2 linked regions of the Homo sapiens genome follow. The protein of the gene in region 2 interacts with the protein of the main gene of each other region in a pairwise test. Each region holds a gene or a part of one and is shown on either strand. Other genes may lie near its edges.

Region 1 (7,812 bases), on a different chromosome or scaffold from region 2:
AAAAAAAAATGGCCTGAGGCTTTAGTTTTATTCGAATAAAGCATGCTACAATTCCATTTTCATTTTTCAGAAAGCAATACTTCCGTGGGATACCCACTCCCTACTTAAAAGCATTTCTTGGCCAGGCATAGTGGCTCACACCTCTTAATCCCAGCACTTTGGGAGACCAAGGCAGGAGGATTGCCTGAGTCCAAGAGGTTGAGACCAGCCTGGGCAAGATGGTGAAACCCCATCTCTAAAAAACAACACAAAAAATTAGCCAGGCACGGTGGCCCACACCTGTAGTCCCAGTTACTTAGGAGGCTGAGGGGAGGATCACCTGAACCTCCCAGGTTGAGGCTGCAATGAGCTGTGATTGGGCCACTTCACCCCAGCCTGGGTAACAGAGTGAGACCCTGTCTCAAAAAAAAAAAAAAAAAAGCATTTACTGAAGTCCCACAATATTTATTAGAAACAAGAAAGAGAATATGTTTCTTTTAGTTCCCTCAGTCAATTTTCCTAAAGCCATGGGACCTAAAGGCTTTTGTCAAACCCTTTCTTAAAAGCTCAATTCTCCCCTTCCCCAATCCGCTAAATGACTGTCTTTACTGACATAATTTACTCCCTTCATTGGGAACTGAAAAATCATGGTTTTTTCAAATTGATACTTAAGCATTTTAGATTAACCAGGTGAACTACCTTTCAGAGAGAATGTAGCCCAATTGTTGCTAAATCTGTAAAGCAATACACAACTTTGAAGCAAGAAGCTTACCATTTCATATTTTAAATCCTAGGGCTCTCATGCATTCCTTGTGGGCCTCAATTAGATGTCCACAGTGTTCTTCTCCTTTCTCGATGATACTATAAAACAAAATGTACTTGTTATCTAAATATGCATTAAGCACATTATTAAGTATGCATGATAGTGATGGGGAGTGAGACAAAACACGGGTATAATGGAATGTAGCTGGAATTAAAACAAACGCTATTACCTCAAACAGCTTTGTTTTTATTTGATCTTATGATATGCCCATGCCTATGAAGACATTCCACAGATAAGTGATTTTGGGGGGGAAATCTGATAAGAAATAATCACGCATATTAAATATTGCCTCTAGTCAATATCCAAGGAGTAACACTGCTCTATAAAGAAATAAACTGAGTAAAATATTTATGCTAAATGAAGGGCACAGAGAACAGCTCAATTTTTTGCTTATTATCACAGAGAAATTAACTTTCTGATTTTGCCCTACATTCAAACACAACCAAATAAATCTACTTCTAATTACATCAAAAACATCTGGTAGCCAGGAGACCGAGATAAACACCCCCTCATGATGATCAAAGAATATTTTACTTGTAAAATTCACAAAGTAAAGACTAGGACTACACAGCTTTATTTCTAAGGCCTGAAAATGTGATTTTGCAAATAATCAAGTTAAGCCCAATTCAATTACAAGGAAAAACTGACTCCTGACTATGGATATTTGGGGAGAACCCACGTGGTCTGAGGCAATCGAGGCAAAGGGAATTTAACAAAGGGAATAGGTTCTCCTTCCATGGAAACTCTACCCATCCTTCAATAGCTCAAGAGCTGCCTGCAAATGGGAGATTGCCTGGGATAGTGAGATCATTGTGAAGATAATAGCTAGCATTCATTGATCATTTATTGCCATGTATACTGTGTTAGCCACTTGACATGGCTTGTATCATTAACCTTTACAATAATACTGGAGGGAGTTTCTTTTATTAGAGTCATTTTACAGACACATGAGGCTCAAGGTCACCAAGTTAGTGGATTAAGATTCAAACCTTGACTGTGGATCCCAGACTCTTAATCATGCTGTCATACCATTCAAGGTTCAACAGCACTTACTGTTACCACTGGAACAATTTGTTCAGACTAGTCTTTCAATCCTACCCGTATTATTTACAAAGTACTGAGGATTAATAAAAGCACTGAGCTCCTACACTCTTATTATCCCATTATACCACTAATGATTTCTTTCTTATATCTACTATCTGGGAAGACAAAAGGGGCCAGAGGAAGAGATGCACATTCACGTTATCTGAGGACGTCCTCTAATGAGATTTGCTCCACAAGAGAGGCTATATAAAATGAGAACAAATCTTTTGTGGATTGACAATCTAGATGAACTATTCTTAATACTTTGTCCCCTGCGTCGTAGACTGATTGATTTTCAACTTTTGGTTGTCTTAAAAGGGTTGAAGCGTAACTCTTCAGAACTGTAAGGAATACACTCTGTGTCCTACTGTCTCTAAATTTTGGGAGAAAGCCTTAGAAATTACCAGAAAACCTTTCCTGTTTGGTCTTAACAAATCTATCATAGCCCTTACCACGTCGTATACAAGTCACTGGTTTATGTCTCCATTAACTTTAAGCTCCTTTATATCAAGATGCATCTTTATCCATGTCTACATCTTCGGACCTAACGCAGTGCTTAACCCATAACAGATACTCAACACACATTTGTAGGAAGGAATGAGTGGTTGAAGCTTGCCGTTCTCCTCTCTCTCCATCGTTTCCCGGTACTAAGCTACGGGATAAGTCAACAGAGACCCGACCACGAAACCTACAAGGCCCAATAATTATCTCCAGAGCGCCGCAATGGGGCGGGGCGGGGCGGGGCGGGGGGGGGGGGCAGACAGGGAGGAGGAGTGGGGGAAGGGGGGAAGGAAGAGGGCAGAGGGCAGAAGGCAGAGGGCAGAGGGCAGAAGGCAGAGGGCAGAGGCCGTAGGGCAGAGGCACCGGAAGGCACAGGCCGCGGCCCGGGGCTCGTCGGCCGCGCCCTCTCCGGCTGCGCACTGACCACGCATCGCGCGCCTTCTTGGTCTCCGGGCAAGCGCAGCAGGGCTTCAGCGGCTTCTTCTCCTGAGACTCAGGCGGGGCAGGGTTTGAGTCAACCAGACCCGGCATCTTTCGCGCCAAAAGCAGCTATGAGCGGAGACAGCCAAATCTATGCCAGCCTCGGCAAACGCCGATTCGTCCGCAGTCACTTCCGGCAGTCGCTCTAAAAAGTACAGGAAGTCCTGCTTCTCTCTGACAGGTGGGGAATTTAAAAGGAGCGCGTGCGCAGAAGAGGCAAAATTCGGGCCTTAACGAGAGGGTGCCCCCTTCAGCGCATGCGCAAGGAGGCCCGCTGAACGCTCACCTGGACTGTGGTATTTACACTCTAGGACTCTAGGTCATAGAGTATTTGTTAAATCAACTTGGGGAGGGCTCACGAAGAAAGAAAGCAGCAAGACAACTGAGAGATCTCGTAACACCCGCTCCTCCCCACCCAATATCGAAACGGAAGCCCAAGATGGTGAAATGATTTGTTCAAGCCAAACAGGAGAAACCATAAGTGAAAGCCAGTTCCCTTGAATAACAGACTAGTTTCCCCCTTTTCTTTTATCCGCCTTCTTCCTGATCCCCACACACTGCAGGCCTTTCCTCTCTTTCATTGACCTATTTAAAAATGAATAGCAAGACATAGAACCACCGAGTCCACAACTATTGGGGGAATTTAAAAGGTCCTATAACCCCCTATACACCTCCTACGCACATTAAATCCTCAGCTAATTTGCATTTATAGCCCCCCTCCAACTGATCTGAATTCAGTATGAATTATTCAGTCATATATTCGTTAATATACTGATGAATAAAATTGAAAAATACCATTTCCATAGCATTTCCTCAGGTACATAGATAAACTGGTGCCCGTCTTATTCGCAATGAAATGGATATAATCATTGGATTTTTTTCCTGCAGAGTATTGTTGGAAACAGGCAATAAACTCTTTTTTATTTTATTTTATTTTATTTTTTGGAGATAGGGTCTTGCTCTGTCGCCCAGGCTGGAGTGAAGTGGCACGATCTTGGCTGACTGCAACCTCCACCTCCTGGGTTCAAGCAATTCTCCTGCCTCAGCCTCCTGAGTAGCTGGGATTACAGGTGTGCACCACCACGCCCGAGTAATTTTTGCATTTTTTAGTAGAGACGGGGTTTCGCCATGCTGGCCAGGCTGGTCTCGAACTCTGACCTCAGGTGATCCGCCCACATCAGCCTCCAAAAGTGCTAGGTTATAGGCATGAGCCACCGCGCCTGGCCAATAAAATCATTTTTTAAAGCAGGACTTGGAGGCACTGTTCAATAGCTGCAGGGTGATAGGTATTTTTAGGTACTTAAACTTTCAGCATCACCTAATCAAAGTTTGTTTCTATATTATAGATATTTAACTCAGGGAATTTACAGGCGTGTCTGTGAACTGGTGCTGTATAAGAGTAATTTCTATATGTGTATTTTTCAGGTTACTAAGACCATCCCCATTTTGTCATCTGAAAACTTTCAATAAGGATGATTTTTATTTCCTTCTGGATTGATATTTTTAATAATACAACATATTACCCTCATGTTCTAAATTCACCCTCATCCATTATTATCAATTCTTTCAACTAGGTGCTAACTCACATTGTTTAGAATCTTGCTAATCAAACAGTGCTTCCTGGATGAGCAATATCAACATCACTTGTAACCTTAATATACAATAAAATGTGGTTCAACAAATTATTGGGGAAAAGAAAATAGGCTAACCATCTGGAGAAAATTAAACACTACATTAAAAGGAAGAGCTCTAGATGCATTAAAGACCTAGATTGGAAAGATTGAAATATGAAATTAATAGCAAATTGTGGAGGAGAATATTTTAATACTGAGGGATGGGGGAATAACTTATGTTACATTTCAAAAGTACAAATTGCATGTCAAAAAAATTGAAGAAATTCATTACAGCAAAATAAAGGCTTGGGGTTTTACATACAATACTATAGACAAAGTTAACAAATAAATGATAGAATTGGGAGAAAATATTTGAAATCTACATATTTTTAAAAATTTTAAAAGTTAAAAAACTAATGTGTTCACTTAGAATATGTATTCAGTTGAAACAATGTCACCTTCAGTCGCAATATCTTCCATATATGTAGGGCTGTCGAGGTTGTGAACCATCATTTAATCTTCATGGCAGTCAAAATTATTATCTACATTTATAGTTGGGGAAAAATTGAAGTTCAGAGGTGTACATTTGTTCAAGGCTGCGTAACTTGAAAGTGGCAATCCTGAGTCTCATCATCTTCTCCCTGTACTCTGTCTACTATCCTACTTAATTTATCTAAATGCAAGGCAAGGCCTGGTGTAGTGGCTCACACCTGTAATCCCACACTTTGGGAGGCTAAGGCAGGCAGATCATCTGAGGTCAGAAGTTTGAGACCAGCCCAACCAACATGGTGAAAACCCATTTCTACTAAAAATACAAAAATTAGCCAGGAGTGGTAACCTGTAATTCCAGCTACTTGGGGGGATGAGGCATGAGAATCACCTGAACCCAGTGGGTGGCAATTTCAGTGAGCCGAGATTGTGCCACTGCACTCCAACTTGGGTGATGTAGTGAGACTGTCTCAAAAAAAATTAATTAATTAATGCAAAGCAAAATTTTTTTATTTTAAAACTAATCATTGATCTGTATTCACTTGTGCTATTGCATTTTTATGTATAGGAAATGAACAAGGAAGAAAAGGAAGATAAATATCTAACAGAGTTTAGAGAGCTAAGAGAATTGAGATAAACAGTAGGGACAGATAACAGACCCAAAGACTCAAACAGCTTTTCTGCAATTGAGAAGATTTTTTGGCCCACTGTCCCTCCTTGCTTCAGGGAAGAAAGATTACTGGTTGTGATAACACTGCCTGTGACTTCCTCAGGTTAGCTAATATAGGCAGGCCTCAGGCAAAGAAGTTGAGTAGCAGCCCTTTCTGCACCACACTTCTTTAACCTGCTGTGTTCCAGACATTTACAACCTTTGGTTTCCTTACTGAGTGCTGTAACCCTTAACACTCTTTCAACAACTGCTTCTTCAGGATGAAATATTCTCCTGACTTTGAAAAAAACAACCAGTGGCCTTTCCAAAGTGAAATATTTAGTCATTTATATCTAGCTACTAAACTATCCTCTTGCTTCAGAATGGTACAGCTAACCCACATATGTGGGTTACTTTTCCTTCTACCTTTTAATTTATATGAAGTAAGGTGGAGCGTGCTGGCTCACGCCTGTAATCCCAAGCACTTTGGGAGGCTGAGGTGGGCAGATCACTTGAGGTCAGGAGTTTGAGACCAGCCTGACCAACATGGTGAAACCCCGTTTCTACTAAAAATACAAAAATTAGCCAGTCGTGGTGGCAGGCGCCGGTAATCCCAACTACTCAGGAGGCTGAGGCAGGAGAATCCCTTGAACCAGGGAGGCGGAGGTTGCAGTGAGCCGAGATCACGTCACTGCACTCCAGCCTAGGCAACAGAGTGAGACTTTGTCTCAAAATAATAATAATAATAATTTATATAAAGTAAGCTGTAAGGTCAACTTTTGATTTTTATGTTATCACTATGCTTTTCTTCTTTCTCTATCATTTTTTCTTCTCCTACCCAGTCTAAATGCTTTTATACTCGTGGGATGGCCTGTTTCGGTATTAAAGGAAAGGTAGGAGTATATAACATAAGAAATTTATCCTTTCCCATTCTACCCCAACAAAAATCTTAATAGCCCACTTCCCCCAAGAAAAATAATTTTAGAGAGCTGTAATTAGAGTTTAAATTGACAGTAGGTGGCTGATGAATACCAAATAATAAAAGATAAAATTCACCCATCTGTCTTACAAAGGCAACTCTGAAATTAGTTTGATTCATACCTTTTATATCAAGCTCTTGCTCATCAATTTTGATTTTAACCAGAATTGGAGCTCTTTTAAACCTTTGGAATGCTTTGCTATTACTATAATTGCTAAATTAGCAGGCATTAAGACTTGAAGTGGTGACTGTAGTGGATTTTTTCATAGCACAGTGAATATGTTTATTGTATGTTATTGAATGGGGACATTAGCTACCAGTGGCACCAAACAGCAATTTTGTGGATGCATGACAGCCCTGGTAATGCCAGAAGCAACAACTGAGAAAGTACTTTCTAAAATCCTTCTATGATAAAGGTATTTTTAGCCATTTTTCAGGCCTAACTAATCCCAGGTGTGCCAGCTTTACCAAGTAAGGGTGAGTAGTTGTTGGTGGAGAAGGAGTGACACCATATGTTGAGAGATAAGAATTACAAGACTTAAATTCTCATTGGCCTAATGTACTATGTCTACTTTGTATAAACTAACTTACAAAAGTAAGTAAGGTAATTTTTGTCCTTATATCTGCCCCTGCAAAGGAAAAAATGCTTTCCAATTTCCACAGGTAAATATGTACTGTACATCGTTCTTTATAGCTGCAATTTTATTCAAATTGCCTGCCACAGTTTTATGAATGTTGGTTGTATTAGTCTGTTCTCATGCTGCTATAAAGAAATACCCAAGACTGGGTAATATAAAGGAAAGAGGTTTAATTGACTCACAGTTCTGCATTGCTAGGGAGGCTCCAGGAGACTTACAATCATGGTGGAAGGCAAATGAGAAGCAGGGACCTTCTTTACAAGATGGTAGGACGGAGTGAGTGCCAACAGGGGAAATGCCACTTATAAAACCATCAGATCATGTGAGACTCACTCACTATCACAAGAACAGCATGGGAGAAACTGCCCCCATGATCCAGTTACCTCCACCTGGTTCCACCCTTGACACATAGGGATTACAATTCAAGATGAGATTTTCAGTGGGGACACAGCCAAACCATATTATTGGTAGAAGCCTCCAAGCAGCTAGGTCACAGATGAAGGACAATTTATTACTTATAGCAATAGCAGCAGCAGAATATCAGCATTTTTATGCCAGTTCCCTGAGTTCCAAGTCCC
Region 2 (4,451 bases):
ATTATCTTGGTGTGCATTTAATTATTTTTCTGAATTCTTCATGGATAATGACATAGTAATTGTGATTCTTTTAATACCAGTTAAGCAGTATTTGGCAACTTAAACTTCCTGGGAGCCTAACTTTACTATGTTAAGTGAGTCAGGTGTGCTTTTTATTTCCCTTGTTTCTCATTTTGCCCTGTCAGTGGATGGTAGATGCTTTGTATATCTTAAATCCCTTAAAGGATCTTAAAGACATCCCTCAGGTGTTCTATTTAACTTTTATTTTATTTTATTTTATTTATTTATTTATTTTGAGACTGAGTCTTGCTCTGTCGCCCAGGCTGGAGTGCAGTGGCATGATCTCGGCTCACTGCAACTTCTGCCTCCCAGGTTCAAGCCATTCTCCTGCCTCGGCCTCCTGAGTAGCTGGGATTACAGTTGCCGCCACACCCGGCTTATTTTTTTGTATTTTTAGTAGAGGCAGAGTTTCACCATGTTGGCCAGGCTAGTCTCGAACTCCTGACCTCAGATGATCCGCCCACATTGGCCTCCCAAAGTGCTGGGATTACAGGTGTGATCCACCGCACCTGGCCCTAACTTTTAATATACAACACACACACACACACACACACACACACACACACACACACACACACACACACACACACTATTTCAGAAGACAGTGTGTTGCCTTACCCAGAATGAGTGCTAGGATTACAGGCGTGAGACAGACACACATACACACACATACACACACACAGAGTCTTTATTGCAGAAGACAGTGTGTTGCCTTATAGGCGTGAGACACACACACACACACACACACACACACACACACACACAGTCTTTATTGCAGAAGACAGTGTGTTGCCTTACCAGAATGAGTGCTTGGATTACAGGCGTGAGCCACTGTGCCCAGCCCTAACTTTTAATGTACATCACACACACACTCACACTCACATACACACACACACACACACTCTGACTGTCTTTATTGCAGAAGACAGTGTGTTGCCTTACCCAGAATGAGATTGAATTGTTTTGCTTCGTTTTGTTTTGTTATTCAGTGTTGCGGTAGCAGATGCATTATCAAAGGAAAAATATTTGGCTCCTTTAATTCCTCTGAAAACATGAGTATTTTGAGTTCTGCAGCACAATGACTGTAGGACTAAGCTAAGTCTGCTTTGCAGATATCTGATCAGATAGTCCCTTCATTCTGTAGACGTGTATTGGTTGGTCCAAGACACAGTGAGTAGGAGCTCTGTGGACCAAGACAAAGCTGGACTAGAGAGTACAGTTCAAACTTGGCAGTTTCTCTAACGACTCTGTATAGCTTCTGGCTTCTACTACTGAAACAAGAGTTTAGATCACTGATGGAGAGGCATAGTAATCTGTTTGTGCTTTGGAAAAATATATAAAAGTTTTTTTCCCCTATTTTTTGCACTTTAAATCTGTTTTGAAATTAGAACTGATATACATTTATTTGAATAATGTGTAACTATTATGGATCTATTTTAATGAACAATTTTTACCATTTCCCAAGCTGCCTGTTTATTATAAGCATGACATGTTTACTATAAACCTTTTGCCCCCATAATTTCTTTTTTTAAAGGAAATTAATATTAGTAAAATAAACACCTCTTTAATGGAAGCTGCAACCTTCTAGTGATCCAAGTAGACAATAGATGGTGGCATCACAGACTTTATCTACACACTTTCGGGTCTGACCACTACCTCCCACAATACCTAGCCATTTTGGAAGGGGAAAACATGCGGTGGTCTAGCTGTATAGCTCAGGGCTTAATTTCAGCTTCTGAGATTGTGATGTCATATTTCACTCTCAAAACATAGGCTGAAAGCACGAATTACTCAAAAAGTAAGCAAACCAATACCTGGTGAATCTATGGACAGTCATACACATACATCAGGGGAAAATGTGTGTGTACAACCCAAATTTACAGTATGATTGTCATTCTTTGACTTTGTTTTGTATAGCCTGACTCTGTTGAACATGAAATTATTAGTACTCTAGGTTTTGGACAGCTTGAGTTCATTTGAATTCCTTCCTTAGGAATAAGTTTTTATATACACTGCTAAATGTGTGATGAGAATCATAAAACACTAACCAGCTGAGGTAGCTGTGATTCACTTTCCCCCCACCCTAACTTGAGATAAAATGAAGGACTAGGCAAGTATTTCATGTTGTGTGAGTGGACTTCGGTTCCTTCAGTATTGTCTAGGTTATTGAGTCTTTCTTTGCCTAATAGTGGATTCCCACTCTTAAGATAACTTTTATTAGTGATAAATCAGTTTAGGGTATATTCTGTATGACAGGCATAAAATGTTAAGGGTGAATGCTGGCCTTTTCCAAGAAAAGGCCACCTTAACTTGTATGAGGAAAAAATCCTAACTATTCTCTTTTTTGTATCTTTTTTTCCGTAACTGTTTTGATTGTATATTTTAAAGAAACCACTTAATTTGTGATGCACGTAATATTTGTGTGAACCTGAGAATATGTCACAATAGGAAAAAGCAGAAATTATACTTAGGGGACATGTTAGGGGGGTAAAAATATTTAAGCCTCGAATGTTTTACTGTCATCTCCACTAACTATTTTTACAGAAAAAGCTAAAAACTCTGTTGTAATTATTGTAAGTTTACTTATTTATACTTTTAAATTAGGCTTTTCATACTTAAATTTTTTTGACATTTGCTTTTAATATTTGTTTCTTAATGTGGAAATTGTGTATTTTAATAATCAAATTATTAGGATAATAGATATATTTTTAAACATTCACCTCATTAACAAATAGATCTTTGAATTTTTATTAGGTTTTTTGGCTCCAGACAACTGTTTAGCTTTAATGATATTTCTAAATTCCCAGTGACTTATTAATAAAAACAGGAAAAATATTTAGGTAATGTCATAAAATTTATTTTACCTTTCTCATTTTCTGAGAAAATAAATGAAAAAAACCCTAGATATTGCTTTATTACCAACAGTGTGTAGGTTTTTGTACATATGGAAATTTGACACAAAAAAATAGGGAATTTGTATAGAGAAGTTTCCCTCTTATAAAAGGACTCCCATTTGATTGTTCGAAACTATAAAATGCACTTTTACTTTACCATATCTGAAATGACAAAATATCGCCCTTTGGAAAACCTGACTCTTTGCACGTGTAATTCCCAGAGTCTACCTCAGTTAACCAGGCTTAGTTTTAGGCAGGAATGAATTGAATTAAATTCAGTTCATCATCTATGCAGATTTGTTTCTTTTAAGCACATCCTTCCCTCCTGCTGTTGCCCTCCTCCCATTAACTTTTCTTTTTAATCTTGAAATTGTTTAAAATATTCCATCTTTCTTTCTCTAGCAAAGTGTTTGTATTCCAAATAAGGCCTCTGTGAAATGTCTGAATTACTTTTCCCGTCTTTGTTATGGTCAGCTTCATTATTTGGATGTATTGCATTCAAAGCAGCAGTTCCAAACATAACACACATCTATTTTCTTAGAGTTTTGTAAATACAAACTAACCTGATGACATTAAAAATTGTGGATCCTACATGTTCCTATGTTCATTCTCTAAAAACCTGAGTAACTTTATGAAAACACACAAACCTGGAAAAACATCACATTTTTGTCACATTTTTACTGACAAATGTATATTCATATGATGGTACGGCAGCAGGGAGTGGCCCCCAGTTAACATGGCTGTGAGTGGACACAGTGTCTCGCAGGATCACTGCATGTTATGATGGCTTGTAAGTGCGTTGTTAAGACTTTTGTTTCAGTGTTTGTCTCCCAGTATTTGAACCTAATTTAAAGAAAAAGACGTTTCCAAGTTGTATTTATTAAATGTGTTTTTCCTTACCTTTTGTGCTGCTACTTTGCTAATCTCATTAGCTTAGCTGTGTTTGTGCATAGGTTATATTTGGTAATAAATTTATAGAGTGTTGGTTGTCATCGCTTTCTTTGTGGTTCATTTTGACCTATAGTCACGGGTGCACTTCTTGCCACCAGTGGGAGCAACAAACCCCTCACTAGTAAGGGATGGCTTTCCCCAGATTTTTGTTCTCATAAAATCACATATTATAAACCTGACATTTTGTATTTGCTGTGCTTATGCCAATAATTTCAAGGTTGATGCAGGTAAGATGTGTGTTTTTTCAGTTAATTCCAACTGGCATAATCAATACACTTGTCTTATTTGTGTAGCACCATTGCAAAGTAGATGTTCCATATGGTGCATTTTCTAGATGACTAAGTCTTACTTTATGACCTCCTCCAAACAATTTTTTTAGTTAATAGACTTTATTTTTTTTAGAGCAGTTTTATGTTTACAGAAAAATTGAGCAGAAAATTTGGAGCTCCCATTTACTTACAACCCCCGCCCCAGTTTCTCCTCTTACTAACATCTTACATTAGTGTGGTATATTTGTTATAATTGATCAACTGATGTTGATGCATT

Evidence for each region.
Region 1: the proteins of KATNAL1 (region 2) and COX17 interact in binary tests that used the Homo sapiens proteins (3 or more experiments, as listed by UniProt).

Annotation. Positions count from the first base shown.
Region 1 is NC_000003.12:119,674,394-119,682,205, forward strand, and holds the start of COX17 (cytochrome c oxidase copper chaperone), read right to left. Parts: upstream 3,014-7,812; 5' UTR 2,918-3,013; coding exon 2,811-2,917; intron 2,611-2,810; exon of another isoform or gene 2,574-2,610; coding exon of another isoform or gene 2,469-2,573; intron 841-2,468; coding exon 756-840; 3' UTR 752-755; intron 396-751; exon of another isoform or gene 15-395; intron 1-14.
Region 2 is NC_000013.11:30,202,125-30,206,575, reverse strand, and holds the end of KATNAL1 (katanin p60 ATPase-containing subunit A-like 1), read left to right. Parts: 3' UTR 1-3,946; downstream 3,947-4,451. UniProt on the Homo sapiens protein: Regulates microtubule dynamics in Sertoli cells, a process that is essential for spermiogenesis and male fertility. Severs microtubules in an ATP-dependent manner, promoting rapid reorganization of cellular microtubule arrays.